Linked DNA regions of Homo sapiens: all the other regions are linked to region 3. Evidence: fine-mapped QTL for protein levels in blood plasma. A gene starts in region 3. Each other region holds a variant in brackets. All regions are shown on one strand. Distances are between the middles of the regions.

Region 1 (8,179 bases), 450 kb after region 3:
GGAGTTCAAGACAAGCCTGACAAACATGGTAAAACCTCATCTCTACTAAAAATACAAAAATTAGCCAGGCATGGTGGCGGGTGCCTGTAGTCCCAGCCACTTGGGAGGCTGAGGCAGGAGAATGGCTTGAACCCGGGAGGTGGAGGCTGCAGTGAGCCGAGATCATGCCTCCGCATTCCAGCTGGAGTGACAGAGCAAGACTGTCTCAAAAAAAAAAAAAAAAAAAAAGGTCTTTATAATGAGGCGCATTTGTGATTTCAACTTTTAGAGTTTACAAAATAAATTTAGCCTTTACCTTTTACTCCTTCCTCTGAGAGTTTGAATTTATGAGTTGGTGTTCTAATGGAGTTGGTATTCTTATAGATAACTCCATCTCAGAGGTAAATATAAATCTAGAACTGGGATTGGCTAATGTCTTTTGTAAAGGGCCAGATAATACACATTTTTGACTTTGCAGGCTATCTAGTCTTGTCACAACTATAGAACTTCGTTGTTGATAGCATGAGGGAGGCTGCTATGTTCCAATGCAAATTTGTTTATAAAAATAGGGGCAGGCCATGTGTGGTCCACTAACCACAGTGTATGGGCCTCTGATCTAGACTGCACTTTGTCTTTATTTACTTCAAAGTGACAGCAGCAGCCCCTTTCCTTCAAGGAGAAAGATCCCTCCCCTAAATAGTCCTTTGCTTTAATTTTTCTTAATTAAAAGAAAATTTAAAAATTAAATTAAAAGAAAATTTCAAATTAAGATGGACTAATTCAGAAAATTTATACAATATACAAGAAAAAGAAGTAAAATAGTGAAAATCTTATCCTTACCTTCAAACACTCTAAGAATAACCACTGTTAATAGTTTGATATATGTTTTTTCAGATTTTAAATGTGTGTGTATATATATCATATATAACATATATGTTACATATATAACATATCTATTACATATATTATATATTACATATAACATATATATGATATATATACATACAGACATCCACAGACAGGGGTTTTGTTTTTGTTTTTTTTTCTTTCCTTCCTTTTGCTTTTCTTTTCTACCTTTCTTTTCCTCTCCCTCTCCCTTCTTTTCTCCCCTGCCTCCTTTTCTTTCTCCACTCCTCCCTTTTTGCTTTCTAACACATATGGTATCATTCCGAAATACTGTTCCGCAACTTGCTTCCTTCACCCCGCATTACATCACTGTATGCCTGTTTGGGTTGGAGAGGCGCACATTCCACAGTTGGTGCCCTGTTGTTGCCAAACGACATGACGTGAGTGTCGGATTATTTTCGGTGAGTGGTGTTAGAAGCAGGTGCGAGTGCAGGCCTTATGCATCTCCACCCACACAAGCTTGCTGCTGCCGGAGTGTTGGTATGAGAGCAAGTCTCAGACCAAATGCCAGCAACTGTACAGTCCTTTCTTGGCTCGCAGGCATGAACAGCTGGTCTGGAGTTTGGAAGGGGGCTCTGCTTGTGTGGTCAGCCACGCTGACCAGCACTGTAATGAAAATCTCGTTCTAAAGCAGATACCCGCTTACAGCAGGATGGGCAAACTCCTCCAAAAAGTAGAGAAATGGGCCCAAGTGACTTTAGCCCAAGCATCCTCTCCCCATGTAAACTGTTGGGCTTGCCTTAATTTAAAAAAATACGTTATTCATGGAAGGGCCATGAGCCTTGTTACACAATTCTAAGTGAATCACAGATTAGCCCCCACTTCCTTTTTTAGAAAAAGGGAAAGGATAATATAAAAATACCCACATATCTTCTCTCCAGATTCACAGTTATTAACATTTTCCCACATTTGCTTTGCCTACTTTTCTTTCTAAGAAATAATATATACATATATTTACCTACACACATACATAAGTCATGAACATATATGGGTCTATATTTTTAAATTTTTATTTTATTTTTAATTGTGGTTATAAACGTATCACATTAAATTTACTATCTTAACTATTTTTGTGTCCAGTTCAATAGTGTGAAGTATATTCACATTGTTGTGCAACAGATCTCTAGAACTTTTTCATTTTGCAAAACTGAAACTTGATGGCCAGAAACAAACTAATTCTCCTTCTCCACTCTCCCCGTCCTTGGCAACCACTTTCTTACTTTCTGTTTTTATAATTTTGACTACTTTAGATATCTCATGTGAGTGGAAAAGTGCTGTATTTGTGCTTTTGTGACTAGCTTATATAACTTAGCATAATGTCCTCAAGGTTTATGCATGTTGAATGTGACAGGGATTTCCTTCTTTTTAAAGGCTGCGTAATACTCCATTTTAATGCATATACCACGTTTTCTTTATCCATTCATCTGTTGATGAACATGTGAGTTTATGCTTATGTATCTTTTTCCAAACTACTTGAAAGTAGTTGGAACATTATGATGCTTTACCCTTAAACACTTCACCTTAAATACTAGCTGCTAAGAAGAAGGCCATTCTCTTACATAACCACAATTACATGATCATGTTTAAGAAATTTAATATGCAGTCTATACTCAAATTCAAATTTTCCCAATTGTTTTAATAATAAAATAATATATCTATTTATTTTGAATCTAAGGTCCAATCAGGGATTATTCATTGCATTTAGTTATCGTGTCCATTAGTTTTTAAATTTAATTTTAATCTAGATTTTTAAAACTTTTATTTTGGAATACTGAAAGTTCTGAAGAGTCCAGACCAGTGTTTTTGCATAATGCTCTATAATTTAAACTTCTCGAATTTTTCCCTATGATTAGATTTAGGCTAGATATTTTTGGCAAGAACTCTACACAGATAATGTGTTCTTCTCATGTAGGAGACACAAAATGTCATTTTTTCCCCATTACTGGTGGTATTAATTTGTTTACATAATTAAGTTGATGTCTGCCAGATTTTATTTCCATTAGGTATCTTTTTCTCTTTGTTATTAAAAAGCGACCTGTGGGGTGATACTCTGAGACTGATTTAGCACCCATTGATAATCCTAACCTGCATCAATCATCACATTGGTGGTTTCGAAGTAAACCGTGTCTTAAACTTTAATTTCTCTAGTGAAAGTTATTTCTAATATTCTTTATGCCAATCAGCTAGCCCTAAGAGGCTGAATAAAATTAACTTTCACACACACCACACTACTCATCCTGATGTAGTTCCTAGTAAATCACTATGAATAACATTTAACACCTATTTGACCTATTTACTG[G/A]GTGATCTGAAAAGCCACCAGGTTTGATGAGAGCTGGGCCAGGGGAAAGCATCTCCAGGGGGTAAAAGCTTTTAAGTTGATTGGCTCTGCAGCTAGGCTCTTAAGACCCAGCAAATTTTGTAAGCTGCATGGGACAAATTGGCTTGCTAGGATTTTGGAGGAAAGTCACCTCTTTCAGCAAAGAACTTTTTTCTTTTTTTTAAAAAAAAAAAAAAAAAAGGAAATAACCCCTGACTTGCAATTGGGCTGTACTCTGGTCTGAATATTTGTGTCTCCTGCAAATCCACATGCTGAAATCCTAACCCCCAAGGTGGTGGTATTAGAAGGTGGGGCCTTTTAGAGGTAGTTAGGTCACAAGGGTGAAGTCCTCATGAGTGAGATTAATGCCCTTATAATAAAAGAGACCCCAGAGAGCTGCCTTGTCCCTTCCACCATGTGAGGACACAGCAAGAAGCTGGCAGTCTGCAATCCAGGGGCAGGCCCTCACCAGAACCTGACCGTGCTGGCACCTGATCTTGAACTTCCCAATCTCCAGAATTGGAAGAAATAAATTTCTGTTGTTATGAGCCCCTCAGTCTCAGGTATTTGGTTTTTATAGCAGCCCAAATAGACAAAGACACGCTCTGATGGTTAAGGGTTTGGAAGAAGCAAGACTGGGAAATGGCTGAGGAGGCCTGTGAAGGTGTCTGTGAACTGACCTCTCAGGTAAATGTGAAGTGAGGAGCTATTTGTGGCCCACATGAATGCTTGCCACAAGGCCTTGATACAGAGGGGGCCTTTGTGACTACGTAAGTAGGATGGATGGCCCACTCTGTGAGATGTTAGACTCCTTTCCCAGATATCCCAATGCTCACAAAAATTGGGGTATCCCAGATACCTCAGTGCTCACAAAGTGAGTGTGGTGGCAGGAAGGGAGGCTGTGCCTGTACTCAACAACCCTTTTCCTCTCACCAAGTCTGACCTGCTGTGGTGGAGTGCAGGGACTGTTGGCAGCAGTGGCCAAGTGGCCCTGAGCTCTTGGAATGCTGTGATAACTGGAGGGTGGGGGGAAGGGCAGCCAGCTCCCCAGAGGTAGATTAGCTGTATTGGATTCTTTCCACGATGGAGGAAGTAATGCTTTGTTTCCAAATACTCTGGGTTTGGGTTGGCTTTTGTTGCTTGCCTTAGCTCTGCCAGCACCACCATCCATATGCGAGTGGTTCTCAACCAGGGAAAATCTGGCTTTCAGGGAACACTTGACAATGTCTAGAGACATTCTGATTGTCATATCTTGGGAGGGGGATGCGGCTACTGGCATCTGGTTGGTAGATGTCAGGAATGCAGCCAAACATCTTACAGTGCCTAGGACAGCTCCACAACAAAGAATTATCTGGTTCAAAATGTCAAGAGTGTTGAGGTTGAGAAACCATTTTATTCCATCAAGGTGTCTTCCAGATATCTTAACTATAAAGGAACTTACCTGTAGTTAAAGAAAGAAAGGCAGCTGCGTGCAGTGGCTCACACCTGTATTCCCAGCACTTTGGGAGGCTGAGGCAGGTGGATCGCTTAAGGTAAGGAGCTCAAGACCAGCCCGGCGAACATGGTGAAACCCCATCTCTACTAATAATACAAAAATTAGCTGGGCATGGTGGTGGGTGCCTGTAATCCCAGCTACTCAGGAGGCTGAGGCAGGTGGATTGCTTGAACCTGGGAGGCCGAGGTTGCAGTGAGCTGAGATCGTGCAACTGCTCTCCAGCCTGAGTGACAAAGAGCAAGACTCCGTCCCCCCGACCCCCCACCCACCAACAAAAAAGGCAGTAGTATGTTTAGTAATTGTGTCCAGTTGCAAGTAACTGAAAATATGACTAAATGAGATTTTATTTTTCTCAAGTAAGTTCCCATCTTTGGTTCAGGTGCTTTGAAATGTCAAAGCTGAGGCTGATTGTGATTCTATTTGCTTTCCTTCTTACTGCAAGATGGTCCACTAGAATGTACACACAACAAGGGCAAGGATATTTGCTTACTGCTATATCGCCATAGCTTGGAAGAATGGCAGGTACTCATTAACTGACCATTTGCTGAGTGGAGCGCCAGGCAGCAGAAAAAGAAGAATATGCAAAAGAAGAGATAAGTTTCATGTTAGGAAAATAAAACAGTCCTAGAAAATCCACAGGCAACTTTCACTTGGGCTTCGCTGGCCAGATCTCAGGGACACCTGTAAGGGAGGCTGGAACATATAATTTTCAGCTTGGAATATTGCTGCCAGATACTCAAAAATATTGCTTTTCTGTAAGTAAGGAAGAAGTGGGGATGGATATCTAGTAGCAATAAAGACAATTTTTGATAGGTCTTGGACATGGGCTTGCAGACTTATCTCTAGGCAAGACCTTGAGCATGGAGAATGTGAGAGATTGCAAGATCAGGACCATAGAAATGAAAACTAGAGCAACTGCTTCTCAGAAGACTCATCAGAATCAGCAGAGAAACAGCCTGGTGGTAAACTTGTGACTGCTTCATGTCTGTGACTCAGACAGATGCCTTATTTGCATTCAATCTAATGAATCTGATGTTGACCACACAGTTTGAAAAAAACAAAAATAGACATAAAAGTTCAACAAATGACTTGAGCTGAGATTTATTACAGGTCAGTCTGAAACTAAGAAGATAGTACATTGTTTAAATCAGACAGCCTCACCTTCTTGGGAACTTTATGGCTTTTGCATTTACAAATCTTGCTCTTGTCTTTAGTTGGCGAGAGTGTCTACACAGGGTTCCTGGGCTTTATGTACACTCAGGATTAACTCTGATCCTAACCATGACCCTAGCCCTAGCCCTAACATTAGCCTTATCTCTAACCCTAACTCTAGCCCTAGCCCTAGTCTTAGCCCTAACCCTAACCCTAACTTTAGCCCAAGAAGGTAGGCTTGGTGCCTGCCTGTTTATGAATGATGAAACCTGCAAGGCTTAGGCTAATTGCCTCTGAGTTATTTTTGGCCCCAACCCACAGGACTGAATTTCTCTGTGTTGGATCATATTTTCCCTGCTTTGCCCAGCAGTAAACTCAGATTAACAATCACAGTGATTTAGAATTATTATTTTTTATTTTGTCAGCACCAATTAGGAGTGGCTGCCACAGTGGAGTTTTTCTGGTCAAACATGAGGGATTGAGCATATAATTTTACATGTGATTTCTTCCATGACTCCACTAAAATATTGGCAAAAGGAAAAAAGGTACAAATCTATAAGGACAAAGGGAGCATAAAAGGACAGCAGAGCACCTGGGAGATGAAGAAAGCTAACTCTTAAATCCCTACAGAAGGGAAGGGATGAGCTAGCAAGACATTAGTTAAGTCTCACTGCAGAACTCCCCAAAGACTCAGGAGCTGGAGACATAAGCTATTCTAGAGGCAGGGGTAGGCTGGGGCTAAAAACAGGAAGATGCTTGAAAGTCTGAATAAAGAGTGATTGTATCCCAGATTCCTTACCCCACTACAGCGAAAGATTTTTGGAGGCAAGTGTCTCTCGGGAAATGTTGAACCACAAGAGCTTTTGGATTTGTACATACCAGGCACAGTTGAGGACAGTTGTCAGGTGCCAGATTGAACATGGGGACTAATGGAAACCTAAAAGAGGGTTTTCTAGCTTGCTCACTTACCTTTGGCTCCCAGAATGCTGGCAGGTGGGCTCATAGCTGCCAGGCAGAAGTGTGGAGAAGTCCTCTCTGGGGAGACCACCAACCAGAAGAGAGCTGCCCATTTTACCCACCACCAAAGGCCAGTGCCCCTCTCACTTGCTCTTTGCTGATGCCTAAGAACCAGAAAGTCCTGCCCAGACAGAACTGTGCCTCAGTCTTAAATATGAAAGGACAGCTAAACTTTCTTGGAGAAAGCCACTAGGATGAAAGATAAGGTCAAAGTCAATAAACAGACTTTGGAGCAACTTGGAGAAAACAGAGTAACTGCCCCCAATTATTTTCTATTTCCATTTCTTGTTAATTTCTTTTGTTAGCACTATCACTTCCTAACATTATATAGTACATCTCTTAGTTTTTTGTTTACTCTTTGCCACCCTCAGCAGAATGTAAACTCTATGAGGCCAGAGACTGTGTCTTGTCCGTTTTTCTCTCACCAGTACTCATGACTGGCACAAGGGGAGTTCCAATAAACGTTGTTGATCAGCCTGGCGTGGGGACCCACACCCATATTCCCAGCACTTTGGGAGGCTGATGCAGGAGGACTGTTTGAGCCCAGGAGTTCTAGACCAGCCTGGGCAACATAGTAAGACCCTGTCCCTACAAAAAATAAAAAATTAGATGGGCATGGTATTCTGTGCTTATGGTCCCAGCTACTTGGGAGGCTGAGGTGGGAGGGTAACTTGAGCCCAGGAGACCGAGGCTGCAGTGACCTGTGATCATGCCACTGTACTCTAGCTGGGGTGACAGAGTGAGACCCTGTCTGAAAAACAAAAAATCCCACAACAAACACACCAAATATTGATTGAATGAATAACAACTGTATCCATAATAAAAAAGAGTATTATAAAAAAACATTAAAAAGCAGAAAATACTTTGGAACATTAATAGTATAATAAGACATTTTAAAGAATTAATTTTAAAGAATTCAATAGGAGATTTGCAAAATAAAATTGAGAAAATATCCTCAAGATACAGAATAAAATGATGAAAGATAATAACAAAAAAGATAATAACAAAAAGATAATAACAAAAAACATAAGAAAATTAGATATAGCACAGAATCTTAACATCAAACTAATGGGAATTCCAGAAAGGAAGGACAGAAAATTTGGACAGAATTCAAGCATTCACTGGGTACCTGGGTAAATAAATGACAACAGAATTATTTCAAGGCACATGATTGTGAAATTTCAGATTCCGGGGTATAATAAGAAGATCCTGTAAAGCTTCCAGAGAGTAAAAGGAGATCACAAACAAAAGATGAGTATCAGAATGATGTTGGACTTCTCAATGACAGCACGGGAAACCAGAGACAACGAGAT
Region 2 (8,179 bases), 12 kb after region 3:
CTCAGGGCGGAAGGGACGTGCCGTGATTGAAAGGTGCCACCTGTCAGATCTTCCACGGGAAATCCGAGCCTCCCAGTCTAGGGTAAAGTGTTGTACCAACAGGCCAGTAAACAATGCTCTTCAGGCAGCCCAAGACTCTTGAAGTGGGGGTGGGGTGGAAGAGGGAGAGGAAGGGGGGAGGCGGGACCAAAGAGCTGGGGGCTAGAGGCCACTGGGGCTTAAAGGCAGCCTGGGAGTGAGGCCACTCAGCTGGAGCAAAGAGACAGCTCCCAAGCCACAGGCAGAAGCCCCACAGGTAGGAGAAGCCCTGGCACCCTTTCTAAGGGTCCCTCCCCATCTGCCAATTCTCACTCCCACTGTCCAAGGGCCAGAGCCTCCCAGGAGGGCCCCCCATTTGGAGAAATCCAGGCTCCTTTCTAATTCTCTCCACCACAATGTCTACTCTCTTTAGATGCCTGGGGTCTCAGCCCTGCACCAGAGCACCTACAGAGCAGACTGCAAGTGGCCATCCACGAGGAGGCCACAGAGCAGGGGAGGGGACCTTGGGAGTCTCAAGAGTCAAACTGGGTTGGGGGGTAGACTGTCTAAGCCAAGCCTGTCCAGCCCACAGGCTACCTGTGGCCCAGGATGGCTTTGAATGTAGCCCAACATGAATTCATAAACTTTCTTAAAACATTATGAGATTTTTTTTTTTTTTGCAATTTTTGTTTTAGCTCATCCACTATCGTTAGTGTTAACGTATTTTACATGTGGCCCAAGACACTTCTACTTCTACCAGTGTGGCTCAAGGAAGCCAAAAGATTGGATACCCCTAGTCTAAGCAATTGAGGTCGGCCTCTCCAAGGGAGGGCCCCTGGCTGAGTGGGGAAGGTGGAAGCCTTAGGACAACCAGATGACAGATGAGGCTGCAGTGGGTGGCAGACGCACCACAGAACATCCAGTGTTTATACTACTGGGAGTTTGGATCTTGGGCTCCTGGGTCCCTTTCCTCCTGGTCTGCCAGAAGAAACAGGAAGAGAGAGGGAGGGGAGATATCTGCAGTGCTGCTTTGGACACAAAACAGGGATGGTTTGGAGACTTCCTGGGGAAGGAAGGAGGAAGGAAAGGAGAGAATAAGAAAGGAAGGTGGGGGCAGAGAAACTTTCATGAAGGGCCTACTGTGCACCTAGAAGAAAGAGGGAGGAACTCCTCGGCTGAATCTGACTGCCCTTCCCAACTGGTGGGGTGCCCCCACTCTGGGCCAGGGCCTTTGTAGGGACACTGGGCTGCGGAGCTAGTGGGAGCATATATTTGATGTGAGCTCTGGAGTGGAAGTTGGGATACTTGGATTCTAGATAGAGAGCCAGGCCACTTGTCCTATAACTTTAGTCAAGGGACTTCAACTCCCTGAGCCTGAAATCCCCATTGGCTCCCTAATGGGGCCAATAACCTATTCTGAAGGGTCGGAGCAAGAAATGACCAAGAGAAAGCAGGGCCTCCGCAGCATAAGCTGTAAACTGCTGTAGGGCTGTGAATGCTGGGGGTGGGTGGTGGCGTCCTGGTTTCTCAGCATTCTGAGCATCTTCACTCCTTTTCTATTTGTGACAAGCCTGGAGGGTGGAAAGCTGAGGTGATAAACACGCAGGATAGCCGAGGTGTGTGTCCGTGTGCGTGCACCTACCCTTCCCCTCCACCACCCTAAGTATGCAGCGTGTAGGCAGAAGGAAAGATGGTTAGAGCGGCCAGTCTCAGTGGCTCATACCTATAAACTCAGCACTTTAGGAGGCCGAGGCAGGAGGTTCACTTGAGGCCAAGAGTTTGAGACCAGCCTGGGAAACATAGCGAGACCCCATCTCTATAAAAAAAATAAAAAACAAAAAATTAGCCAGGTGTGATGGTGCACATCTGTGGTCACAGCTCCTCAGGAGGCTGAGGTGGGAAGATCCGTTGAGTCCAGGAGGTAGAGGTCACAGTGAGCTATGATTGAGCCACTGCACTCCAGCCTGGGCAACAGAGTAAGACCCTGTCTCTTAAAAATAAAAGATGACTGGAGCACTCAGCTATGTCTTAGCCAAATAGTGTCATACTTTGAGGTATAAAAAGGGCTTGTTATCATCCTACTGGCATTCAGTTCTCTCTGCCTTGACTCACTGATAAATGCCCTCAAGGCTGGGTCAGGACCTTGCCCTGGCACAGGGCTGGGCACAGCCAACCCACATCATACGAGCTGATGGGTGCTGAGTACTCATTCATGCCAAGCATGCCTCTGAATCCTGTTTTGTTTTGTTTTTTTAAGAGCTGAGGTCTCACTTTGTTGCCCAGGCTGGAGTGTAGTGGCTATTCATAGGCATCATTATAGTGCACTGCTTGACCTCCTGGCCTCAGGTGATCCTCCTGCCTCAGCCTCTTGAGTGGCTGGGACCACAGGCATGTGCCGCCACGTCTGGCTCCAGATATTTTCTAAGCATGGGCTTTCTTAATCCTCCACCATCCCTATGGGATGGGACCTATTGTTGTCTGCAGAAATCAAAACACAGAGAGGATGGATAGCTTGCTCAAGGTTAACACAATTAGTAACCCATGGGAGCTGAGATCCCATCACAGGAAGACACCAGAATCAATGATTTTCACTGCTAGTCCATGTCACCTTCCAAACAAGAGCAGAGAGAAAGAGGGGAAGGGATTGTGTTAGACCAGCATTTGCCATGCTTTCTTCTGCTGCTAGAGAGAGTGGTAGATGCTCCTCAGGGAAAATCAAAGCAAAAAGAAAAGAAAACAAAGGGAGGAAAAAAAAAAGTCATGGTCAAATAGGTTTGGAAAAAAGTGAGTTAAATGAAGTTTAAGCAAGGTTTAGGTTTCTTGACTATCTGGTTTCTAAAATCTATTTAAATGCTAATGAAGTTATATATCTGTTTTTGTTTTGTTTTGTTTTGTTTAATTTTATTTTCCTTACTATAGAGACAGAATTTAATATGTTGCCTAGGCTGGTCTTGAACTCTTGGGCCGAAGTAATCCTCCCACCTAGGCTTCCCAAAATGCTAAGATTATAGGCATGAGCCACTGCGCCTGGCTGAAACTGTATATCTCTAAGAGGGTAAAGAGTAGGCTTTTTTGTGGAGCAACCTTAGCCAGAGAATATCCTTTCTCCCAACCCCACAGAAAACCCTATCCATGTCACGGGAGACCCTAGTTTTCCACAGAACACAATGTGGAGAACCTGATCCAGATGAACCCCATCATTGTCAGTTGAAACTGAGGCCCAGAGAGGGAAAACTACTTGCTCAGGTCTCAGTGGGGACTGGAAGATGCAGGTCACAGCCAGCTCCACAACTTCACACCTCCCGGCATCTCTGCTGATGTGCGTCCATCCCCCTGGCTCATCTTCCCTCTTTTTTTTTTTTTGAGACGGAGTCTCGCTTTGTTGCCCAGGCTGGAGTGCAGTGACGCGATCTCGGCTCACTGCAACCTCCACCTCCCGGGTTCAAGCAATTCTCCTGCCTCAGCCTCCCAAGTAGCTGGGATTACAGGCGTCTGCCACCACACCCAGCTAATTTTTGTATTTGTAGTAGAGATGGGGTTTCACCATATTGGCCAGGCTGGTCTTGAACTCCTGACCTTGTGATCTGCCCGCTA[C/T]GGGCTCCCAAAGTGCTGGGATTACAGGTGTGATCCACCATGCCCGGCGTCATCTTCCCTCTTACTTTAAGACATTGCTGGAGCCGCTGAACCAGGAAGGGGCTCTAGCAGGAATCAGAGGACAGTGTGAGCATCTTTACAAATCCCAGCCTACTTTTAGGAAATAGTGAGGGCATCGAATTCAGGAACCCCAGGACTCTGGGTAAGACCCCAGTGGGTGGTGGGAAAAAAGCCCTATCCCTGTCTTCTTGCCTCCTGTCCTCTGCCCAATTACCCAGGTGCCCTCGGTACTATCACTGAGAAAGATGGTACTGCCAAGGGCAGGGGGTATTTTTAGTGTGTGACAGGAGTGTCCACTTTTCTTACTGCCTGAGTCATGCCCTGAGCCCTATTTGGGGATTGTTTTCTTTGTAACTACACCCCCCAAAAAGGGCAGGAGCATGAAGGAGCTAACCCGGGGCCCCCACACACCTGTTTTTGTAGATCCTCCAGTATATACAGTACTTAAATAGGAAACTCCGAGTTAAGATGTCATAATCTACCCCCATGCTCCCGGGGGCAGTTGGAGAGTCAGATTGCTCAGCAGAGGCCAGGGAGAGTACGGCTCCATTCTTCACTCAAGGAAACGCTTCCTTGCCCAGGCCCACCTTTTCCAAAAACCACAGGCTGGTAGAGCTGGCAAAGCTCCAGAGACCAGTTGGCCCTGGGGTTCCCAAATTTCAGCCATTTTTATACACCACCTCTATAATTTTGCTACATCTGCACTGCCTATATTCCAGTTTCCTGAATTACTTCCTTTGAATCAACTTATTTTTAAGTTCAGTAAATGTATTTTTAAAAGACACTGTATCACTGTTGGAAATGGAAACTCAGTATCACTTACCAGAGATAGAAAGTAACTGTAAAAATAAATACAATGGAAACAAAATGGTGTTATTCAATTCTATCTAGATACTTCTGCTTGCCTAGGCTCTCAGGGGAGAGTAGCAATTGTTCCATAGGTGTTCTAGGATGCCAGTATAAAACTGTGACCAGGCACTGCTCATGCCTGCAATCCCAGAACCTTGGGAGGCCGAGGCAGGTGGATTGCTTGAGCTCAGGAGTTTGAGACCAGCCTGGGCAACATGGCAAAACCCCATCTCTACAAAAAAAAAACACACACACACACACACACACACACACACAAAAATTAGCCAGGTGTGGTGGTAAGCACCTGTAGTCCCAGCTACTCAGGAGGCTGAGGTTGGAGGATCACCTGACCCCAGGAGGCAGAGGTTGCAGTGACCTGAGATTGTGCTCCTGCACTCCAGCCTGGATGACAGAGCGAGACCTTGTCTCAAAAAATAAATAATACAATAAAATTGTGACCACCTCAGTGGCTTAATCAAAAAGAGGCAACATGACTGAAAAGGCATTATGTGATTCAATGTTCTTTAAAGCCAAAGCCAGAACCTACCGAGGGGCATCAGGTGAACACCATCCAACGTCATGTCAATGTAGCCCAACCATCCCAGCTTTGGGGAAGCACTTCTCTCTCCTTCGTGATTGGGCCCCATGTCCAAGTAGGAGCCAAGACTGAACCACGGACTTCCTGACTCCCAGGCCAGAGCTCTCTGAGGGTGGGGTCTTCACCTCATGCTGGGCTGGGGCATGACCAGGTCTGCTTGTCTTCTCTTTCCAGAGATGGAGCAGAAGGAAGGGAAGCTCTCTGAGGATGGGACCACCGTCTCCCCAGCTGCGGACAACCCTGAGATGTCAGGAGGTGGAGCCCCTGCAGAGGAGACCAAAGGCACAGCTGGAAAGGCCATCAATGAGGGGCCTCCCACTGAGTCAGGAAAGCAGGAAAAGGCACCAGCCGAGGACGGCATGTCAGCAGAACTCCAGGGGGAAGCAAATGGATTAGATGAGGTCAAAGTGGAATCTCAGAGGGAGGCTGGTGGGAAAGAGGATGCTGAGGCTGAACTTAAAAAGGAGGATGGTGAGAAGGAAGAGACCACTGTGGGTTCTCAGGAGATGACTGGCAGGAAAGAAGAGACCAAATCTGAACCCAAAGAGGCTGAGGAAAAGGAGAGCACGCTGGCCTCTGAGAAGCAGAAGGCTGAGGAGAAAGAGGCCAAACCTGAATCTGGGCAGAAAGCCGATGCCAATGACAGAGACAAGCCTGAACCTAAGGCAACAGTTGAGGAGGAGGACGCCAAGACAGCCTCTCAGGAGGAGACAGGCCAGAGGAAAGAGTGCAGCACTGAACCCAAGGAGAAGGCTACTGATGAAGAGGCCAAGGCTGAATCGCAGAAGGCTGTTGTGGAGGATGAGGCTAAGGCTGAACCCAAGGAGCCCGATGGGAAAGAGGAGGCCAAACATGGTGCAAAAGAGGAGGCTGATGCAAAAGAGGAGGCGGAGGATGCAGAGGAGGCAGTGAGTGAGGCAGGAAAGGAGCAAGGAGGCTCTGTCGTCTCCTGCTTCTGGAAGCAAGCCCCCTCTGCTTCAGTCAGTTGGGAAAGTCCAGTTTTCCTCCTGATGATTTCCAGAGCCCAGGGTGGGGGAGGGGGGACAAGGAGTGCAGCACCGTAGTCCCAGGCTGCCTTTCAGAACTTTCTGAAGTCCTCATGAAGCCAGGGCAGGTGCTGTGTGACCATGAGCTCACGCAGATCATGCTCATTCCAGGAGCCAGGCAGTCCCAGCGAAGAGCAGGAGCAGGACGTGGAAAAAGAGCCAGAGGGAGGGGCAGGGGTGATTCCCAGCTCCCCAGAGGAGTGGCCTGAGAGCCCCACTGGGGAGGGGCACAACCTCAGCACAGGTGAGTGAGAGCCCAGAGCCCATGGGATGCTGCAGAGGCCACCTGGGGGAGGGGCGCAAGAAGCATGCCATGGATAGCCCCAGCTTCCCTCCCTCCTTTCACTTTCCTCCAGATGGGCTGGGTCCAGACTGTGTAGCTTCCGGACAGACCAGTCCTTCAGCCAGGTAATGTCAAACTCTGGGGCTCCAGCTCCAATTCCCCCTACCTCCTGCTTCCCTCAGCGTCCACCATCAACTCAGTCTGGGTTCCCCCAGCACCTGATTTCAAGATATTCGAGGATTCCTGGCATTCAGCTTCCTATCCCAGGGCAGAGCCCAGGAAACAAAAGAAGCCAGAGGCATGGTCGGCTGCAGTGGCTCACGCCTGTAATCCCGGCACTCTTGGAGGCTGAGGTGGGTGGATTACCTGAGGTCATGAGTTCGAGACCAGCCTGGCCAACATGGTGAAACCCTGTCTCTACCAAAAATACAAAAATTAGCTGAGCGTGGTGGTGGGCACCTGTAATCCCATCTACTCGGGAGGCTGAGGCAGGATAATTACTTGAACCCAGGAGGTGGAGGTTGCAGTGAGCCGAGATTGCGCCATTGCACTGCAGCCTGGGCGACAGAGCAAGACTCCCTCTCAAAACAACAACAACAGCAACAACAAAAAACCAGAGGCAGAAAGGAGCACGAAGGATACCTGGTCCACTTCCCATGCCATGGCTGAAGTCTGCCCTGTGGCATCCCTGACACTTCACAGGAGCTCCTTATCTTTCAGCTGAACATGTTTCCATGGTGCCAGTCATCCAAAAAGCATGATCAGAAAGCCCGAGTTGGGACAATGGTTCTGCCATGTACCAGCTGTGTGACCTTGGCCATGTCACTGAACCTCTTCTCATCTGTGAAGTGGGCATAGCAATTGTATCTACCTCGTAGGATTATTCTCAGGCTTCAATGAGTAACAAGTGCAAAGCACTTTAGCCCAGTGCCTGGTCCCTGGCAGGTGCTGGATAAAATAAGAGGCTTATGCTTGCCATTGCACAACTTCAGTCATTAGAAGGATTATCTGGAGCTGAAATCTGCCTCCTTGTCCTCCCCCCATTTTTTTTTTTTTTTTGAGATGGAGTCTTGATCTGTCGCCCAGGCTGGAGTGCAATAGTGCGATCTCAGGTCACTGCAACCTCTGCCTCCCGGGTTCAAGCGATTCTCCTGCCTCAGCCTTCCAAGTAGCTGGGATTATATGTGCGCGCCACCACGCCTGGCTAATTTTTGTATTTTTACTAGAGGCAGGGTTTCACCATGTTGGCCAGGCTGGTTTTGAACTCCTGACCTCAGGTGATCCACCCACCTTGGCCTCCCAAAGTGCTGGGATTACAGGCATGAGCCACTGTGCCCGGCCTCCTTGTCCCTTTCTTAGGGAAAGATAACCAGTGAATAGTCACCCAGCAGGCACAGCTGGATGCTTTACATTCACCTTCTTACATAGGGCAGGTAGGTATTCTTGTCCTCATTTTACAGATGAGGAAGCTAAGGCTCAAACAATGTGACAGTCCCAAGATCACACAGCAAATAAGAGGCAAAGCCATGCCAAGCGCAGTGGCTCACACCTATAATCCCAGCACTTTGGGAGGCTGAGGCGGGTAGATCACTTGAGGTCAGGTGTTTGAGACCAGCCTGGCCAACATGGTGCAATCCCATCTCTACTAATAATACAAAAATTAGCTGGGTGTGGTGGCGGGCACCTGTAATCCCAGCTACTCAGGAGGCTGAGGCAGGAGAATCGCTTGAA
Region 3 (8,145 bases):
TTTGAGGTTGCCTACCACAAGACATTTACAGAATGTTTTCTCATATAGCATCCAATTCATCTGGGCACCCAGAGCAGAAGGCACACACCAAATGCCTACATGTCAAGCAGATGATGACAGCGAGGGAAGACATCAGTGATGGGAGGTTTGGCAGACAACTGAGCCTCTGCCCATCCACCATCAGGCTGTTGCCGAGCAGGAATGCAGGTCAACTGTTGTCAGATCTTCCAAATTTTCTTTTTCTTTTTTTCGAGGCAGGGTCTTGCTCTGTCTCCCAGGCTAGAGTGCAGTGGTGCAATCTCATTTCACTGTAACCCCTGCCTCCCGGGTTCAAGTGATTCTCATGCCTCAGCATCCTGAGTAGCTGGAACTAAAGGCATGCACCACCAGCCCAGCTAATTTTTGTATTTTTAGTAGATACGGGGTTTCGCCATGTTGGTCAGGCTGGTCTCCAACTCCTGACCTCGGGTGATCTACCCACCTCAGCCTCCCAAAGTGCTGGGATTACAGGCGTGAGCCACCGCTTCTGGCCCAAATTTTCAAAAGAAGCTGACATCCTAATTCTTTGAGACATTCTCTGATTTTTAAAACTGATAAGCAAAAATGCACCTGAGGACTAGCAGTTTATGAATCCTCCCTATGGCAGAAAGTACCTACTTGTTTTGTTTTCTTTTTTTGAGACAGGGTCACACTCTGTCTCCCAGGCTGGAGTAGAGTGGTGCAATCTCAGTTCACTGTAACCTCTGCCTCCTGGGTTCAAGTGATTCTCGTGCCTCAGCCTCCCAAGTAGCTGGGATTACAGGCGTGCACCACCAGCCCAGCTAATTTTTGCATTTTTAGTAGAGATGGGGTTTTACCATGTTGGCCGGGCTGGTCTCAAACTCCTGGCCTCAAGTGATCCACCCTCCTCGGCCTCCCAAAGTGCTGGGATTAAAAGCGTGAGCCACCACCCCTGGCCGGCCTAATTGTTATTTCTTATACCCTTTTATGTGTGTTCCAGCCCTCCTACTGTCCACTCCACCCCCATCCCACTTGCTCATAGGGATCTAACTCACTTTGGGCGCTTTCCACAGCTCTTCACATGTAGCAGGCCAACAATATTGTTGAATGAAATATGAAACTCGACACATATCTCACTAGGGACCATTTCCCCCAGTCCTAGAGCAGTGGTTAAAAGTGGCCTCTGGTGTCTAAGTTAGAATCCTGGCTGGACAACTTGCATGCTGCATGAACTTAGGCAAGTTACTAGCTTTTGAGAGCCTCAGCTTCTTCAGCTGGGAACGATTGTACCTGCCTTACAGAGTTGTTAGATGGATTAGCTGAAATAATACACGTGAAGAATTTAGCACAGAGCTTAGCACACAATAGCAACCCAACAAATGATTTACTGTCACTCACATCGTCCCCTTTCTCTCCTCACTGGCTTCCTGCCTCATCACCCTTTAGTGCTTTATCTTCCATCTTCTGCCACTGTCTACCTGGCTGGCAGCTCGAGTGAGCCACCAAAACGCAAACGTGTCATTGTCACTGAACGATTTAAACTCTTCAATAGTTTGCTGTTGTCCTTAGTAGGAGAAAATCCAAACTCCTTATCACAGTTCACCAAGCTCTTTTGGAGCAAAATCTGCCCAGCCTCCAAGCCTCATCTTCACCTCTCTTCACACCCAGCACTCCAGCCACACTGAAGCTGAAGCTCTCCTTTCCTGAATGCTCCACCTCCACACTTACGCCACTTCAACAAAGCCTTTGCAAGTGCCATTGCCTCCAGCTGGAACCTCTAATCCCCACTCCTACCACCCCTTCTAGATGTTCTGGCTATGTGCTAACAGAGAATTCTTGATGTTTCTTGCTAAACCTGAGGGTATGCACAATATCGATTTTCCTCACCTGTCCTCTCTTTCAAGAACAAGGCCAGCAAAGAATAGGCAAATGATAAAATGTGCGGAATTGTCCACAGCAGTGCTGACCATGAGCAGACGGCGCCACCTGTTGACCAAAATCTGCACTTCAGTACCTGGAAAGGAACTTTCTTTCTTTCTACCCTAAAGACTAGTAATGGCTTTGAAGTTTTCCAGTACATCCGGTATCTTCACCTCCCACCAAACTTAGCAATGAAAAAAGCTAATGTTATTGGATACTCAATGTATGCTAGGCACTCTCCTAAGTGCTTTGGTTATTAACACGTTTAATTTTTGCAACTACCTAATGAGGTGGGTAACCTTACTGCCATTTTATGATGGGGTAATTGAGGCACAGAGCAGTTAAAAAGCCTTACTCAAGATCACACTGCTAGAAAATTTCAGTAGAAACTCAAAGTTAAGCAGTCTGGCTTGAACCTGCACTCACAAGCCCCAAACTCACTGCCTCTATTCTGTCTCCTTTACTCCAATGACCTAGTTACATCCCAGACACTTCTACCAGGAAGGCCCACTTTGAAGGTACTGCTGTCACAGTGGCACTGGTGTCAACCACAGTCCCATCTGGAGACAGCAAACGCAGCAGTCAGGTCTGGCCTCCATGGTATTGTTCTGCTTGTGTGACCTCCAGCAAGCTTGCTCCAGCAAGCAACTTACTTCTTAAATCCTCAGCTTGCTCATCTGTAAAACAGGATTAGTCAGGGGGCTAACCCTATTTTACAGATGCGGAAGCTAAAGCACACAAAAGTGACAGGTGCAGGGCCACACAAAAAGCAGCAGACAGCAGGCAAACCTAAGCTGTCTTACTTTTTTTTGAGATGGAGTCTCACTCTGTTGCCCAGGCTGGAGGACAGTGGCACAATCTCAGCTCATGCAACCTCCGCCTCCTGGGTTCAAGCGATTCTCCTGCCTCAGCCTCCTGAGTAGCTGGGATTACAGGCACCCGCCACTACACCCAGCTAATTTTTGTATTTTTAGTAGAGACGGGGTTTTGCCATGTTGGCCAGGCTGGTCTTGAACTCCTGACCTCAAGTGATCCACCCACCTCAGCCTCCCAAAGTGCTGAGATTACAGGCATGAGCCACCTTGCCCGGCCTGTCTTACTCTTAAACACTCATTAATCTCCCTCTGCTGGTAGGGGCTGTGTCTGTTTTCTTTACTCTCAAATGCCAAGCACACTGCTTTGCACATAGTAGGTGTCAACAAACTTGTTTATATATATATATATATATATATATATATATATACACATACATACACACACAGTCACATTCCAGTGTGACAAATACTCCTTCACCAGGAGACAGCGCTACCACTCCGGGATCTTGAAGACTCTCTACAGAGAGCCTAGGCCTGGCAGTCTTCACAGATGACACCCAACAGGGAGCACGTTTATTAAAGTGGGAAGGGGTGGGGTACACCCCAGGGTGTATACTGACAGGGACCTCATGCAGGCCCAGAGCTCTGCTGCACCCTCTTCATCAGCTCTTCATCCTGCATAGACAACTCTGTCAACTTTTTGCCCATCCGCTCATGGATGTCCAGGTACTTAGAGACACATCGGTCCAGGCACACAGACTCGCCCTTGGAGAGCTCTGCTTCCTTGTAGTGAGGAGGCACACACTTCCGGTGGCAGGCACTGGTCATTCTGGAGGGAGGGAGGGGCAAGGTCATGTCAGCAGCATCCTGTGACATCCCAGGAACCTTGACCATTCCAGCCCTGCTATATTGATTTCACCTCCCCCAAGAAAGCAGTGTAAATCCTCAGTTTACACCTCAACCACTGGAAGGTCCTTGCAAGTAGGAAACTTGTCTAAGTCCATGTATATGACTAACTAAGTAGAAACCATTTGTTGAGGACTGGCTACATGCCAGGCATCCTGCTAAGTGCTTTACCTGCATTCTGTTATGCAATGCTTACAATAACCCTAAGAGACATGTATCCCCATTTTACAGATGAGGAAATTAAGGCAAACAGAGGCTCAGTAATTTTCTAAGGATCACACAGAGCTGGGTTATGAAGCCAGGTCATCTGACCTCACAGTCTACACTTAAAAATCCTTCTAATTTATAGCCTTCAGGATAAACCAACCAATCAAGAGAGCTTAAGCCAATAAAAATAGCAGACATTTCACTAAGTGTTGGGCTTGAGGCTAAGGGCTTTCATATATTTTTAGATTTAATATTTATGATGTCCTATGAGGTAGGTATCATTATGTCTTCTTCATAATGAGGAAACCAATTGTCAAACAGTGCAAGTAACATGTCCAATTATACTGCTGGTGATTGGTGGAGCCAGGATTTGTTCCCAAATTTGCCAAATGGTTATGAGCACTAGTTGCAGAATCAGACTGAGGTGCTAGTTCTGGCATTGTTACTGACCAGCTGCCGACCCTAAGGAAGTTACTTAACCTCTAGAATCATCAATTTCCTCATTTTAAGACGGGACTAATAAAATTAACCCACTGGATTATTTTGAAGATTAACAAGTGCCTGACACAGAATAAAGGGTTTTAAAATGTTAACTACTAAATGGGCTGGCTATGTGCTATTTGTCAAGAGGCAAATACTCAGCTTTTCTTGGAACCTAACCAGAGCCTGGATTGGAGTTTCTCTTCCTGCTTGGCTCCTGCATTGCCAGTTCCATCCCCATCTAAATGCCCAACTCATTCTAGTGACCCTTTACTGCATCTACATTAGGATCAACCTTGAAGGTGGGTGTGGGGAGGGTAAGCATGGGCCTCAGGCTCCCCTACATTCAGGAAGGAATTTGTCATAAGTCATTCACCTTCGATAAGGGTGACCAAGACTTATTTTCCAAGACAGGGTAGCACATAGTTCTCTTTACCTGTTGTACATATCGGCCATCATCTCCACCTCCAGCTCCGCAGCCAGCTGTTGGGCCCTGAGAGGATCCATCTCAGCCTAGCACCGTGGAAGGGATCTCCTTCTGGCCTCCTAATCCTGGGAGCAGACATCACCATCAGCACCCACCGCCGCCGTTCACTCTCCTACCCCTGGGGCTAGAGGATACAGAGGACTCACAGGGCGCCAGACCACCACGGGCCACTAACCTCAGTGAGCTTAACCACCCCATTTCACGGATGTGGAAACTGAGGCCTAGCCCAAGGTCGCACAGGACGTCTATGGCGAGCCTGGAAATCGAGCCCCGGATCTCTGATGCCCCAGTTCCTGGAGGTCACCTCTATTCAGGAGATCGAGGACCGGAGGAGAACTCTCTAACCCACGAACCTGAACCTCCAGGGCCCTGGGAATGGGATCATACGCTGAACAGAGGCGACCGGGACCCAGCCCAAAGGCTACACCTCTGAAATGGCGACGCCATCATCAGGGCCACATTGAATTCAGAGGTCATGTGTCACTTACCACTGCCTGGGACGGATCACAATGCCCACGGAGACCCCAACTTCTGACAAATACTATAACGTTACCCGCCTCCCGAGAGGCTCCAGCGGAAGCACGTGGGTTACTTCCGGGAGGAAAGTCCCGCCTCTTCTTTGATTCAAACTCGCTTCCGGAATTAAATACCAACGAGACGGCGCCGGGAACTCGGCGATCATAGAGAGGGAGCGGCTGGCGCCGGGCGAAGAGGAAGGCGACTTGCCAGTGCTAGAGAGGACACCAAAGTACCATAGAAGCTTGGGCGGGGTGCAGAGCGTCTGCAGCCCGATCAGAATTCAAGTCCTTTGGGATGTCACCGAGCGGCTTCAGTTTATTGGTTCTGTAGGAAGAGGCGTGGCGACAGACACCTGTGAACCTCACCCCCGTTCCAGACAGCCGACTCCTGTGCGCAAATCAGGCGTGGAGAAGGAAGAACGCCCCCAAACAGCGGTTCTGTTTTTGTTTCGCGTTAAAATCACCTGGAACGTTTTTAAACATCCCAGTGCCCAGGACTCACCTCATTTCAATTAAATCAGAATCTCTGGGAGTACAGTTTAAAATTCCTCAGGCAGCAATACAATTTAAAATTCCCCAGGTGATTCGTATGTACAGCCAAATTTGAGAAGCAGTGCTCCACGGGACGTTGTGCGATTACTGCTGTGTGTAGGTCACACTAAGCCCCGTCTGGGGTTGCAAAGATAAGCGAGATAGGCTTCCTGTTCGCAGAAAGACAAGACGTGTAAAATATGTTTTCTTCAACAGTTAGAGGTCCTCAGCCACAAAGAGATAATAAAAGCAATTTCGGCTGCCACCAGGGCTAATCTTGGGTGAGGGAAAGAAGGGTACTGGTGAACTTTCCAACTTTCAAGACTTAATGTGTTCTTCAAACTGCACCATTCACTCATTCCCCACTAAAAAGAAGGAAACAAGGAAACAATACTCAGTCCCTTGATTTGTCACACAATTTCCTGGTAAAATAAATTTACAAGATGTAAATTAATGACGCAAGGGCACATTGCCCATTGGAAAAGGTGGGCTAGACATTTTCTGTGTGGTCATCATAAGCTTCCCTAATTGTCCAAGACCATCCTAATTTTAAACAATTGACCTTTCTACTGCTTTGAAGACTCATCTTTGCCAAACTTGTGCCCTGATTTTTAAAGATTGGGGTATAACATTCATAAAGTGCATAAAATACACGAATGTTAAGCTTAATTAAATATATATGTATCTATATATGTACATTTGTATAACCGCCATCCAGATCAAGATATAAAATACTTCCTGCACCCCAAAAAGTTATCTTGTGTTCCTTCCCCATCAATACCCCCTCTCGAAGTTAACCACTATTCTGACCTCTATCACCATCAATTAGTTTTCCTTGTTCTTGAACTTCGTGTAAATGGAATTATACATTATTTTCTATTTTGTGCCTGACTTCTTTAGCTCAATGTACCTGTAAGATTTCCTCCATATTGTTGTGTGCATCTGTTATTCCTTCTGTTTTATTGCTGTCTAGTGTTTGATTGTATGAGTATGCCACAATTCATCTATCCATTCTCCCGTTGGTGGATGTTTGGATTGTTTCCAGTTTTTGCCTATTATGCAATAATGCTGCTATGATACTCTTGTACAGATGGACATATCTTGCCTTGGTTTTTGCCTTTGAAAATATAGTCAACATTGGCCGGGTGCAGTGGCTCACGCCTGTAATCCCAGCACTTTGGGAGGCTGAGGTGGGTGGATCACCTGAGGTCAGGAGTTCGAGACCAGCCTGGCCAACTTGGTGAAACCCCATCTCTACTAAAAATACAAAAAAGTAGCCCGGTGTGGTGACGGGTGCTTGTAATCCCAGCTACTCAAGAGGCTAAGCAGGAGGCTAAGGCAGGAGAAACACTTGAACCCGGGAGGCAGAGGTTGCAGTGAGCCAAGATCGCACCATTGCACTCCAGCCTGGGCAACAAGAGTGAAACTCCGACCCCCCACTCCCCGCAAAAAAGAAACATTATGGAAAGTTAAGAAACTGCGTGGGAAAAGGAGATGGTTTCTTACAAGAGGAATCTTGCAATATCTACTGGGCCTTATGAAAGGTTGCATACTGTATGATTTCATTTAAGTAACATTCTCAAAATCACAAAATTATAGAGATGGAGAAGAGATTTCTGATTGTCTAGTGTTAGGGTTGATGGGGAGATAGAAGTGTACCTGTAAAGGGTAGCACAAGAGAGATCTTTGTGTTGATGGATAATTCTGTATCCTGATTGTGGTGGTGGTTACAAGAATCTACACAGGTGATAAGATGTCATAGAACTGGCAGGGTGCGGTGGCTCACGCCTGTAATCCCAGCACTGTGGGAGGCCCAGGCGAGCGAATCACAAGGTAGGAGTTCGAGACCAGCCTTGTTGGTGAAACTCCGTCTCTACTAAAAATACAAAAAATTAGCTGGGGGTAGTGGCGGGCACCTGTAACCCCAGCTACTCAGGAGCCTGAGGCAGGAGAATCGTTTGAACCCGGGAGGTGGAGGTTGCAGTGAGCCGAGATCGTGCCACTGCACTCCAGCCCAGGCGACAGAGTGAGACTCCGTCTCAAAAAAAAAAAAAAAGCCAGGCGCGGTGGCTCACACCTGTAATCCCAACACTTTGGGAGGCCGAGGCGGGTGGATCACGAGGTCAGGAGATCGAGACCATCCTGGTTAACATGGTGAAACCCCGTCTCTACTAAAATAAAAAAAATCAGCCGGGTGTGGTGGCATGCGCCTATAGTCCCAGCTACTCAGGAGGGCGAGACAGGAGAATCGCTTGAACCCGGGAGGCGGGAGGCAGAAGTT

Direction of the effects. Alleles are on the strand shown, and positions count from the first base shown. The strength of an association depends on the size of the effect and on how common the allele is. Not every link is listed here.
For the plasma level of the protein whose gene starts at base 5,400 in region 3, allele A in region 1 goes with a higher level than allele G (moderate association).

What was found. A credible set is the group of variants that fine-mapping cannot tell apart. PIP is the posterior inclusion probability: the model's chance that the variant is causal. Protein levels are from antibody-based Olink assays in UK Biobank. Linkage for the fine-mapping came from a reference panel and not from the study's own genotypes, which makes the PIPs less certain.
Region 1: its variant is the best candidate, but not a certain one, in a credible set for the plasma level of the TIMM10 protein (UK Biobank, PIP 0.73).
Region 2: its variant is the best candidate, but not a certain one, in a credible set for the plasma level of the TIMM10 protein (UK Biobank, PIP 0.51).

The regions. Positions count from the first base shown.
Region 1 is chr11:57,973,717-57,981,895 of GRCh38, forward strand. No RefSeq gene overlaps it. Among named protein-coding and RNA genes, the nearest start is that of OR9Q1, 46 kb to the right of the region's middle. RefSeq lists a silencer at 5,061-5,355. The variant G/A (reference allele first, on the strand shown) is at 3,185.
Region 2 is chr11:57,537,348-57,545,526 of GRCh38, forward strand. SMTNL1 (smoothelin like 1) reads left to right here and starts at 248. Exons shown (of 8, transcript NM_001105565.3): 1 at 248-295; 2 at 5,294-6,027; 3 at 6,277-6,409; 4 at 6,522-6,573. The coding sequence starts at 5,296. RefSeq lists an enhancer at 6,056-6,946. The variant C/T (reference allele first, on the strand shown) is at 3,613.
Region 3 is chr11:57,525,355-57,533,499 of GRCh38, forward strand. TIMM10 (translocase of inner mitochondrial membrane 10) reads right to left here and starts at 5,400. Exons shown (of 3, transcript NM_012456.3): 1 at 5,304-5,400; 2 at 4,765-4,880; 3 at 3,110-3,564. The coding sequence starts at 4,835. The coding sequence ends at 3,363. It also overlaps the pseudogene RN7SL605P. RefSeq lists enhancers at 348-945, 5,400-5,579.